2 linked regions of the Homo sapiens genome follow. The main gene of each other region encodes a partner of the protein of the gene in region 2 in a complex. Each region holds a gene or a part of one and is shown on either strand. Other genes may lie near its edges. The genes, in order: RABGEF1 and RAB21. A codon is read from its position in the direction of its gene.

What was found.
Region 1: the proteins of RAB21 (region 2) and RABGEF1 are in contact, whole or in part, in a crystal structure (PDB 2OT3), measured with the Homo sapiens proteins. Residues at the interface, in NP_055814.1 of Homo sapiens: Ser19 (codon at 2,698), Phe20 (codon at 2,695), Lys21 (codon at 2,692), Gly26 (codon at 2,677), Glu27 (codon at 2,674), Gly28 (codon at 2,671), Lys32 (codon at 2,659), Thr33 (codon at 2,656), Leu37 (codon at 2,644), Thr50 (codon at 2,605), Thr51 (codon at 2,602), Leu52 (codon at 2,599), Gln53 (codon at 2,596), Ala54, Ser55, Phe56, Ala71, Trp73, Asp74, Thr75, Ala76, Gly77, Gln78, Arg80, Phe81, Leu84, Ile87, Tyr88, Asp91; in NP_001273991.1 of Homo sapiens: Leu253, Cys254, Lys296, Phe299, Asn300, Lys303, Pro309, Ala310, Ser311, Ala312, Asp313, Phe315, Leu316, Pro317, Ile320, Leu347, Met348, Thr349, Gly350, Glu351, Gly353, Tyr354, Tyr355, Thr357, Asn358, Cys360, Cys361, Ala364, Phe365, Ser373.

The regions. Positions count from the first base shown.
Region 1 is NC_000007.14:66,806,578-66,811,981, reverse strand, and holds the end of RABGEF1 (rab5 GDP/GTP exchange factor), read right to left. Parts: intron 4,145-5,404; coding exon of another isoform or gene 4,106-4,144; exon of another isoform or gene 3,097-4,105; coding exon 2,698-3,096; 3' UTR 518-2,697; downstream 1-517. UniProt on the Homo sapiens protein: Rab effector protein acting as linker between gamma-adaptin, RAB4A or RAB5A. Involved in endocytic membrane fusion and membrane trafficking of recycling endosomes. Stimulates nucleotide exchange on RAB5A. Can act as a ubiquitin ligase.
Region 2 is NC_000012.12:71,750,883-71,757,881, reverse strand, and holds the start of RAB21 (ras-related protein Rab-21), read right to left. Parts: upstream 3,020-6,999; 5' UTR 2,753-3,019; coding exon 2,594-2,752; intron 1-2,593. UniProt on the Homo sapiens protein: The small GTPases Rab are key regulators of intracellular membrane trafficking, from the formation of transport vesicles to their fusion with membranes.

The sequences.
Region 1 (5,404 bases), on a different chromosome or scaffold from region 2:
CAAAAGCGATTACAGGCGTGAGCCACAACACCCAGCCTTCTCTTGGGTTTTCTACATAAAATAACCATCTACAAATAATAGCTATCATTTGTTCTAAGTTCAGACAACAACCCCATGAAGCAGTAATATTATTAACCCCATTTCACAGCTGAGGGATCTGAAACAAGAGATTTGTTCAGGGCCAATGAGCTAATAAGTAGCAGAATAAAATTCAAAACCAAATCCAAGCCTTCCAGCTTCAGAGTTCATGTCCTCACCAACAGACAATAATAGCTCTATATTGATTACATTAACTCCTTTTTTCTCTACTTTTATGTCTGTTTGAAGACTGAGTACCTTGGTAGAACTGCAAGAACAAGGTTGATTGATTGTGGTGACAGCAAATATTCTTGTCTTCTTAATTTTAACTGACAAATGTCTCTAATGTTTCATTTTTAGGTATAGCTTAACCAGAAAACCTCTGTAGCATGAGAATATTAATAATAATGTATATTTTCCTAAGAAAGAACCAAATCAATTTTTGGAAGAGGGACGGATTGTGAAACTTTATTGATAAAGAATTCCGTTCCAAAGGTGTATTCCAGTCACATTTACCCTACATAAAATACCAACATCTTCTTATTGCAAAAACAGAAACTCCGGCCGTTGTATTGATGCTGACTTAAGAGAAATAGAAGCCTCTATATAAGGCAAGAGTCCATACCAGAAGAATTCGACCAATATGAGATACCTCCAAAAAAATCAACTCAATAACCTACTTTATATGTAAGAGACCCAAAAAAGTCAGCTTTTGTGGGAAGTTGATATGCAGTTTATTGAACAAACAGAGTGTACAGTAACTAAACGAACTGTGTATTTCCAAAGGAATTAAGACCGCATATCTGGATTCACACCTAAAAGCACATAGAAAATTAAACCAAAGAAGGGCAAGTTTTGTACTAAAATCACTTGGGCCCAGGTTATTCTATAAGAAGATTCTCACTGGCATTTGATAGTAACTTATCACCTTCTGTGCGAGCTTGGGAACCAGCTGACTCAGTGAACTGCTTCCTGTCTTCAGTGCGTGATGACACAGATGTGTCAAGCTTAATAGATCTTATATGTAAATTTAAGAATAAGAAGTTTTATACCCACCCTGGTTTTATTCCAAAGTTACTGCTCTGCAATTTTGGGCTCCATCCTTAGGAAGATACTGGAAAAGCAAGAGAACCTTTCTCAGCTGCCTGTGTGAAGTGACGTTGTTCTAGAACGGTGCCCTGGGGCCTCATGCACGATTTCACAAGTATAGCTGCATAATCTGTGGATGTCACTGAATGGAAGAAGAATCATCAATGGTATATTTAGGTTATAGAAGGTTCCACTGAGATAAGAAAAGGTTCTACAATGCAGGTAGCTGTCAAGCCTCCTAAATATTTAACTCGTTTTAGTTAACATCACACTGTGCATTGAGTGCAAGATTCTTTGGTTACACCATATTAACCACCAGGAGGATAACTCCTGGTTTGTAAAAGACATCAGTGGTTCTTAACGGAGGGGTGATATGGCCCCAGGAGACATCTGACTATGTCTGGAGAGAATTTTTCACAGCTCTAGCGGGGGTGCTACTGGCACCTAATGGATATGGATGGCAGGAATGCTGCTGAACATTCTACCATGCACAGGGTGGCCCCACAACAAACACCTCTCAGGCCACTAATATGAATAGTCCCGAGGTTGAAATGTCCTGAAAAAGGTTCAGAAAACATGTCTAGACGTTTGCAAAGTCAAATGTATATTATGGAGGCTGCAAGGCGCCCCTTGCATCTCACAGCTGAGGGACCCCGTCACCTCTCACCATCAGAGGCCCATTCATTCCCGCCTTCCATTCCAGGCCCAGTGCCTGCTCCTTCTCACTGAAGAACTCAATAGAGATTTGCTGAATGAATGAGGGAAAAATAAGCTAGAAGCATAGTTTAAAGTCTTCCATCGACTACATTAAACAGCAATTTTATGTGGCCTAAACTTTATTCTGAACCTTAGTGGTGTCATAGTCTCTGACTATATAGAACCTCAAAGTTAAGGCTAACACGTTCTTAAAGATGGAGTGCACATCTTAAGGGGAGTTTGTCTAAACACTTCTCGAGTCATTTTAGTGGGACAAACCAAATAAAATGGTGCTAAAGGCAAACATTCAATATACTTCATTTTAAACTAAAAAATTAACATATAAAATGCCATGCACAGCAGACACCATTCTTTTTTTTACATATTTACAATTTTACATATTTACTTATCAATATAATTTCTATCTTTACAATTATAAAATTATTCCAAACTGTGGAAGAGTGGTACCATTTAATTTTCTTGAACATACACTTTGTAGCATTCATTTGTTTAATCCTTTAAAAGGCAATTATTTACCAAAACCACAGTGAATGCCAGAGGAAGCACATAGGAAAATCATGGAGGGAAAAAAGATTGAGACAAAATTTGCACACAAGCCTTAAATGAATCTGTATCAGTAACTCAAATAAGTAGTATTTTATTATTAACTAAGGTTCCCCTGCTAGGAAAAACGAAACAATCCCCATATACTGTACCTTTAAAAAATGCTGACATTTATAAGCAATTTAGTTACATTCTAGATCCCAATCAGTTGAGTGTAGTAAGGGCTACCTACAATTTAGGCTCAAATAAATACTCTCCACTAAATTGTGATCATCCTGCATAAACTTGAGGTTGCAGTGGTGGAGGAAGTTTATCATTTTCAACGTTTTCAGAGTCAATAGCTGCTAACGGTTGATTCGGAGGCTTAATTTCCAGTGGGTATTTCTCAACGATGTCTTGAACTTCTCTTGCAATTCCATCTGTCCAATCTATGAGGTCTTTTTCCAGTTTCTTGGCTTCATTCATGATCCTTTCTTGTCGTTCATTCAACTGAGACAAGAGATCCAAGTTCTTATACATTTGCTTGACGCCTAAGCAAGCATCAGGAGACCAACTCTCAGCTTCTTGCTTCCTGGGAGAGGTCTGGCCAGACATGTAGCGATCAAAATCCTCCTGACTTAGATTCAAAGACTGGGCGTCTAGCTTCTCAATGAAAGCCACAGCACAGCACTACAAGAAGAGGACGTTAATACAGTCATATTAGGAAAGCTATGCATACTCGAGTCGATTTGTAAAAATCTTTTGATCACAGACCATTTAAAACAGAAGCTAAAGTAAACAAAACAAACTCATGAACTTCTGTGTATTTCAGCCTCAAAAATTACCTACTCCTATCCCCGGTCGTGCTTCCTATACACTCCCAGGAGCTCCAGGGCCGATGTCTGGGTGCAGCCTCCCCAGGTGCACCATGAAGCCATTCTGTCTGAGTCTTCCCAGACCTGCTATCCCCACCCAGGATATAGTCCCCAAGTAGGTGTGGCACACAGACCTCTGATCCTCAAATGAATATTTTAACATCAAGTGGTTAAAAGAACAGCTCCAGACCGGGCCCGGTGCCTCAAGCCTGTAATCCCAGCACTTTGGGAGGCTGGGACGTGTGGATCATGAGGTCAGGAGTTTGAGACCAGCCTGGCCAACATGGTGAAACCCCATCTCTACTAAAAATACAAAAATTAGCTGGGCGCAGTTGTGGGCGCCTGTAATCCCCGCTACCTGGGAGACTGAGGCAGGAGAATTGCTTGAACCTGGGAGGCGGAGGTTGCAGTGAGCCAAGATCACGCCACTGCACTCCAGCCTGGGTGACAGAGCAAGACTGTCTCAGGAAAAAAAAAAAAAAGGAACAACTCTGAAGTGACTGAACCTGAGTTCACTGTCACCTCTTTCACTTAACAACAACAGTGAGTGACCGTGGGAAAGTTACTTAAGCTCTCTGAGGTTTCTGTACCTGTAAATGGGGGGAAATACCACCTAGATTTATTGTGAGAATTAAACAACATAACATGTCACGTGCTTCCGAGAGGCCTGCAGCGAGCAATGAATACACGGTAGCAATTATTAGTACAGACATGGCACTGCAAATGCCCAATTCAACAGACATCTGAGCCAGGCGTGTTGGCTCGTGCTTGTAATCCTAGCACTTTGGGAGGCCGAGGTGGGAGGATTGCTTGAGACCAGGAGTTCAGACCAGCCTGGGAAACAGTCGGGGTAGAAACCATCTCTAGAAAAAAGGAATAAAGAAAAAGAAAAATCTGATTCATCTGAGTAGAACGGAACACCATCTGGCTCATGGTGTGTGTGGAGTTGCTGTGGCCCCTCTGTGACCTGGAAAGAGGAGGTGATTCTAACTCCTCACTTAGGTGAATGGAGACATGGCATTGCCACTAAAAGGAATAGAGAATACTGGAAAAGAAACAAACATCTGAAGGGGAAGTAGCTCTGAACAAATTATATTTGAGGTGCAATACAAGTGTAAGGTCAAGACAGGTGACCCAGAGCTGCAGGCCATCACTGCACAGTGAGTGACAGCTCTGTGACAGAGAAGATGGTGCAGGAAGAGAGATGCAGAGACAATGGAGTCCCATGGAATGACACAATTCAAGGTGGAAGTAGAAGACACAGACTTTACAAAGAGACAAGGAAGTAGTGGAATTGTGGAAGCCAAGGAACAACAGAAGTTGCAGAACAAAGGACTCTTGGAGAGTGCTATGAGAAGCGAAGGAAGATGAAGACTGTGAGTGCCCGTGGGGTTCGTCAGCTGGAAACTTTTTACTTTTGCCAGAGCAGTTTCATTGGAGCAATGGGTGTAGGAGACAGACTCTGAGTCAGGCAAGAAGAGGACAAAGAGAGAAGGCACAAATGTACTTAAGGCTGCAGGCCAAGGGCACTAGAAGCTGCTAAGTGTGTGCAAGCCAGCCACCTCTACTGTCAGTGACCGTGGCTACGCTCAAACACGTCCTGGTCCTCCTCCACTTCTCTCAATACCTGCCATGTCTCCACCTTCACACTTCTCAGGGACTTCCAGGTTGTCTGACTCGCTTTGGATAAAGAACTGAATCCAAAACGCTCTTCCCTCGTAGGCAAGTGTATGTTTCATTTATATTAAGAAATATGAGGCCAGGTGCGGTGGCTCATGCCTGTAATCCCAACACTGTGGGAAACTGAGGTGGGTGGATTGCTTGAGGTCAGGAGTTCGAGACCAGCCTGGCCAACAAGGTGAAACCCCGTCTTTACTAAAAATACAAACATTAGCCGGGCATGGTGACACACATCTGTAATCCCAGCTACTTGGGAGGCTAAGGCATGAGAATCACTTGAACCCAGGAGACGGAGGTTGCAGTGAGCTGAGATCACACCACTGCATTCCAGCCTGGATGACAGAGGGAGACTCCATCTCAAAAAAAAAAAAAAAAAAAAAGGATATATGAGTACTTCTAATCTCATTCTATATGGGCCACTTAAACTTTTTTCAGTACTACAG
Region 2 (6,999 bases):
GTCTTAAATTCCTGTCAATCCTGCAATTCTTTGAAATGTATGAGAATGTACTTTATAAAATACAAAGTAGTTTACATAGACAGGTACTCTGTTGACGAGAAAAAAGGTGAACTCTTCCTCTCATATCTTCTGACATGATTTCCTCTCCATTTGGAAATTAAAAGAATACAAAGTTGTGTCTTACAAGTCACATAAATCAAATTCCTCTGAAAAATTGTTAAGAAAGATGAGGTTAACTGGTATCTCTGAAAGAGATTAGACACATTGCTGTTTACATACATTGGTGTACAACAAAATCCTAAATTCTATAATATAATTCAGATATTAATACTGGATATCTACTATAACTTCATCCTCCCCTCTGTGGAGTACAGTGGCTTTTCATATATTTAAAAACCTTTACTCTGCTTTCAGTTTCAAGAATGTTTTAGAAATTTAAAATGGAAGTGTAATTTTTAAGTTGAAAGGGTATGGCCAGGTGCAGTGGCTCACCCCTGTAATCCCAGCACTTTGGGAGGCCAAGGTGGGCAAATCACCTGAGGTCAGGAGTTCGAGACCTGTCTGGACAACATGGTGAAACCCCGTTTCTACTAAAAATACAAAAAAATTAGCCAGATGTGGTGGCGTGTGCCTGTAATCCCAGCTACTTGAGAGGTTGACGCAGGAGAATCACTTGACCCAGGAGGTGGAGGTTGCAGTGAGTGGAAATTGCTGCACTTCAGCCTGGGCGACAGGGCAAGACTCAAGTTATCTTTTGAAAAAAAACGTGGAGACCTCAATTACAATAGTTTTCTTTTATCTTAGATCTTTGCATAAAGGAAAACACTAGATGGGTTATTTATCAATATACCGAGGTAATGTGATTTAATTGCTCAAAATCTGAAGTCAGACAGGGGTTCAAATTTGAGCTTGGACACTCCTGCCCCATTGACTTGTGGTAATATTACTGCCAGCAAAATTACTCAACTAAACGTTTTTCCTCAGCTGTAGGGCTATCCACTAAACTATCCACTTCATAGGGTGTTATAAGAATTAAAGCAAGCAGACAGAAAGCAAGCAAAATAATCAGCACAGTAAGAACTCACTAAATGTTAGCTATTGTTACTACTTTACCTAAGTAAATCTCTAAACTTCCAAATGATCCTAGGTATTTGTCCAGTGAATTTTCTTGATCTAAAACACCAGGCTCTCACTAATGACACTGAACAATAACAATTCATTATTAAAATTTTGTCAGTGTTCTGGTACAAGGATTTTTTAAAAATGCAGTTTCCTGGCACTCACTTTTTCAGATATGCTTTACATACGAGTAAAATCAGAGGAGTAAAAATAGAACATGGAATCAGAGCCAGAGCGTCTTGTAAATTCTAGACTCAGTAGTTTAATAATAGCATCAAACATCCAATGTCACAACAATTAGGAGATTACGCATTCTATTAAGTAGTGTCGATGTTCTCACATACTACACATTTACTAATTAAGACCTATTGTGCAAGTTGGGGCGGTAATTAAAGGCAGACAACTTACACTGGACCAGGTCATCAGTGCTTTTTCTGTATATTTATCCTGACAACCCTATGAGCTAGATACTACTATTATGGCCATTTTAACAGAAGAAACAGGCACAGACAGGTTAAGTAACTTACCCAGTATGACACAGCTAGTTAAATGGATGGAGGTGAGACATGAACCTGGACAATCAGGCTCAAAAGTCCACTAGACTTTACTGCCTTTGACCAAATTGGTAAGTCAAATTAGTAGGATAAATTTCTCCTAATAACATCAAAACTGATTTCTCTGGGAGAGGTGGGGTGAGTACAACTCCCTCAAAGGCCTGGCTTCACTCTCAATCAATGATAACATTTTAACACCTTTCCAATGTACCTGTGGAAGAAAGCCGACCTTTTATTTTACAGGTAAAGAAACTGAGTAACAGCAGCGGCTTTTAGTCTGGGGACCAATTGTTGGCCAGTATTCACTTGATGTTTCAGCGTGGGTCAATCGACCTCGCAGAATATGAGTGACCCGCAAGTCAGACCCACGCAGGCTGCAATGAAACTGCGTAACACGCCTAGGCAAGCGGTCATTTCAAAAAACCTCCAGAGATGGCTCTTTTGCCATTCCTGTTACTCAGGACAAAATGGAACTTGCATAAACACTTAGTCATCAGTAAGCGCTGAAGTTACAAATCACCTAATTCGCAAAATCAAATACGCAGCTAAGTTCCTAATTCTGAAAGAAAGAAAAGGAGCTAACATTTGGAGACTGCAACACTGACACCTGGGACCCAGGAACTGCAGTAAATGGGAAAAAACAGCCCACGGACGGAGACCACAACGTGCGCAGCCACCACGGGGAACACTGGGGACTTTTCAGGGCCCTTCCACTTCCCTCCCAACAGCCTGTCCTCGCGTCTACAGGCTGCCCCGACCTGGTGATTCCCCAGGGCGAATTCGGAAAGGTAAACCGAAGGCGGAGATGACAGGCCTGAGATTTGCCAGCCTACATCCAGGGGACCAGGGCGGCAAAGTTTCCCCAGCCCCGGAGGGGTAGGGGCCCTGAGGCGCCCCCTCCCGCTCCCCGAGGTCCGCACCTGCAGAGTGGTGATGTGCTTGTCGTTAAACTTGTTCTCGCAGTAGCGCAGCACCAGCGACGTCTTCCCCACGCAGCCTTCCCCCAGCAGCACCACCTTGAACGAGTAGGCTCGGCCCGCCGCCGCCGCCCCGCCGCCGCCGCCGCCGGCCGCAGCCATCCCGTCGCTTCCCGGCCGCCCGAGCCCGAGTGTCGCGCCGCCCTCCCGACAGCCGCGGCAGCGCCTTCACAGCCACGGCCGGCTCAGCCCCCACCGCCCCGGCCCCGCCGACCCGGGCGCTGTCCCCACGCCCTCCTCGGGCGAGGCCTGGAAGGGCTGAGGGAAAGTCCGAGAATGAAGGGCCCCAGCCCACCACGTCAGGCACCGGAGGAAAAGCGAAGAACGATCCCTCTCTGCCTCCCTCTAATGGCGTCTCCTTCCTCCTACGTCACACCTCGGGTCACGTGAGCGCCGGTGCCGGGGCGGCCCCTGCGACTAGCCCCAGAAGAACGTGCCTGGACGTGGGCGGGGCTTCTGGGGCATCTCCCGGGGTGGAGCTGGATGTGAGTCGAGCGCCTACTGGCAATCTAGGGCAGAGCCCCGCCGCTTGCGAGCCACCTCTGCTTTTCAGTTGGTGGGAGCCAGCGGGAATAAGGAACCAGGAATTTGAGGCGAGCCCAGCTCTGGTGAAATGAAGGGCAGAACTTCATCGTTTTTGCATGTTCACAATGCTAATGATCTGTCACACCAGAGGTCACTGTAAACCATATCTGCCAAGGTGCCCTTGAATCTCTCTCTGTGGGATCCCGAATCATAGCGCTTCCAAGTTCCTCTGACCGCCTGGTCAACTACTCCATCATCTTTCAAGTCTCAGCTTAAACCGCGTCCCTGACCACCCAATCCTTCCCCCATCCTTCCATTCCCCCACCTCACAAAATTAGGTATTTCTTACCACCAGTATACCTCCTTTACTAGGGCTTTACACACTCCATGGATATTATTAATACTTTGCTAAGTGTTTATCGACTCTCATTAGACTATAGGTTTGTTGAGGGCAAGGTCTGTATAAGAGCTGCCCACCTTTGAATTCCTAACCCCAAGTGCTCTTCAGTTTTTCTGACTTTCATGAAGCCTCTGACGTTCCATGGTACTCCACCTTGAGGTGGCTTGTTCGATGATTGCTTGTTTTTTCTCATCTGCATCCCCATTCTTTTTTGTTTGTTTGTATTGTTAGTTTTGAGATGGAGTATCGCTCTGTCGCCCAGACTGGAGTGCAGTGGCGTGATCTCAGCTCACTGCAGTCTCTGCCTCCTGGTTCAAGTGATTCTCCTGCCTCAGCCTCCCGAGAAGCTGGGACCATAGGCGCCCACCACCGCGCCCCGCTACTTTTTGTATTTTTAGTGGAGACAGGGTTTCACCATGTTGGCCAGGCTGGTCTTGAACTCTGACCTCAAGTGATCCACCTGCCTCGGCCTCCCAAAGTGCTGGGATTATAGGTGTGAGCCACCACGCCCGGCCTGCCTCCAAGAAACCATACTCCTCCAAGAAATCATACTAATATTTCTGAAAATTTACTGGAAACCTGGTGTCAGGTAAACATTTTTTTAAAAATCAAACTTCTTTCACACTTCAAACCAGGTTAAAAAAAAAAAAAGAGGCCGGGCGTGGTGGCTCATGCCTGTAATCCCAGCACTTTGGGAGGCCGAGGCGGGCGGATCACAAGGTCAGGAGATCGAGACCATCCTGGCCAACATGGTGAAACCCCATCTCTACTAAAATACAAAAAATTAGCTGGGCATGGTGGCACAAGCCTATAATCCCAGCTACTCGGGAGACTGAGGCAGGGGAAGCGCTTGAACCCGGGAGGCAGAGGTGGCAGTGAGCCGAGATCGCGCCACTGCACTCTAGCCTGGCGACAGAGGAAGACTCCGTCTCAAAAAAAAAAAAAAAAAAAAAGAGAGTCGGTTAATTCATTCAACAAATATTTAAATGTGCCCACCATATGCCAGGCACTGTGATCAACAAGATAAAATGTCTCTGTCCTCACAGAGCTTACATTTTATCAGGGAAGACAGACATACTCAATTGTACAATAAATGCTTTCATCTTGATGAAACAGTTCAGAGTATCTTGCAAGCATATATGAGAACCCAACTGATTTAGCATGCTAGAGAAGCTTTCCCTGGAGAAAGTTATCTTTGGGTAAGAGTAACCTAGTCAGGAAGGACAGGAGAGCTCTGCAAACAGAGATAACAGCATGTTCAATGGCTTTAGATAGGAAGGAGCATCTAAAGTTGAGCAACTGTAAATGTGACTAGAATTTAGGGAGGAAAAAAAAACTCCAGAAGAGACCATGAGGAAGTTGGGGATCAATACTGAAAGGGTCTTTAAGCAAATGAAGGATTTTCGTAAGATGACTGACATAATCAGATTTGACCACTCTGGCTATCATTTGAAAAGTGAATTGGAGAAGGATAATATTTTAGATTTGTTTAGAACCAACCATTAAAGAGACTCTATGTTTTATAAAATATCCTCATGATTGTATCTAAAGATATATTTTCCAACTCTCTCCTCCACATTCCTCCCCTTAGGGTCTTTGCACATTTATAGACACTTCCAGAACTAGAAAAGAACTTCATTTTGAGAGAGCACCTTCCATTGTTCTTTCTGAGCACTTCCTCATATTGGATTGAAATCTGCCTCTCTTCACCTGCAATTAATTATTTCTGTTTATATTTATACATTATATATCGAATCCCTATTCCCTATAAACATATGAAGAAGGCTGTGTGTTCTTCCTTTAAGCCTTCTCCTTTCTTCTTTTTGATACAGCCAATCCTTTCAACAACTTTTCAAATTGTGTGCATTTGATTATTTAACAGCTTGGTCATCTTAGAAACTAAATGCATTACTTTGCATTTATCACTAAATCAAAGCAATTAAAAATTTTTTTATTGTAAAACAAAATAATTTTTTTGTGAGACAGGATCTCACTCTGCTGCCCAGGCTGGAGTACAGTGCCACAATCACAGCTCACTGCAACCTCAACCTCCTGGGCTCCAGCAATCCTCCCACCTCAGCCTCCCGAGTAGCTGGGACTGCAGGTGTGTGCCACCACACCTGGTTAATTTTTTAATTTTTTTTGTAGAGACGATATCTTGCGTGTCTTGCTGTGTTGCCCAGGCTGGTCTTGAACTCCTGGGCTCAAGCAATCCTCCAGCCTCAGCTTCCCAAAGTGCTGGGATTACAGGTATAAGCCACCACACTCAGCCAAAATAATTTTCGAAGTTAAAATAAGTTTTTACATTTAGCTTACGTTGACATTTAAGAAGGTAGTGCAAGTTTTCATGGGTTACAATAAGTAGGTTGGCATACTTTTGAGCACAGAGTGGGTAAATATAGATGTAAATTGTAATAGGCTGATAACGGCCCCTAAAGATATCAGCTCCTAGATTCCGGAGCCTGTAGATGTTACCTTATTTGGGAAACAGGTCTTTTTGATTTAAGTTAAGGATCTTGAGATGGGGAGATTATCTGGGTGGGCCCTAACTGCAATCACAAGTATCCTTATAAGAGAGAGGCAGAAAGAGATGCTTCACACCCAGAAGAGGAGAAGGCAGTGTGACCATAGAGGCAGATTATGGAGCAATGTAGCCATAAGCCAAGGAATGCTTACAGCCACCAGAGCTGGAAAAGACAAGAAGCCCCTAGAGCCTCTGGAGGGGGTTCAGCCCTGCAGATATGCTGATTTTAGCCTAGTGAAACTAATTTTGATTCCTGACCTCCAGAACTAAAAGAGAATAAATGTGTGTTGTATTAAGCTACCAAGTTTGTGATCATTTGTTACAGCAGCCATAAGAAACGTACTTAAGTATGTTGTGAGAAAACAAGTAGCCCATAACAGTCAAAGCATTGAAAGAGATTCAGGCCAATTCTGGGATAGATTCTACGCCCTTAAGAATTTAGGTCAGTCTTAGAGTCAACTATGATTGGTCTGTATAAACTTAACACGGACTGCCACAAAAAAAAAAAAACACTAGAGCTCCAGTTCCTCCGTAGAGAAGAGCTGCAAAAATATGGGGACACTTCAGTGAGTGCATAACTCAAAACATATTCCTGAATGGTGAGGACTGAGGCATGATAGGGTGCAAATTCATGTAGCTCCTCTTCCCCCAGTAAAAAACAGGAATAATTATACAGGTGAAATCAAGTTAACAATGAACATGCAGCACAATATCAAATGGGGAAAAATTGTTGCACAGAGGTAAAATGCAGCTTTAATTCTGTAGGCGGGAAAGAACAACCTCACCCATTTTGTGGTGGTTATAAAGTTGAGTTTATGGACTACTTATAATGTATATGAGACCTAGTTTTTGGAATGACTCTTCCTTTCTCCCCCTGTTCTTGCACTACGTTTGTGAATT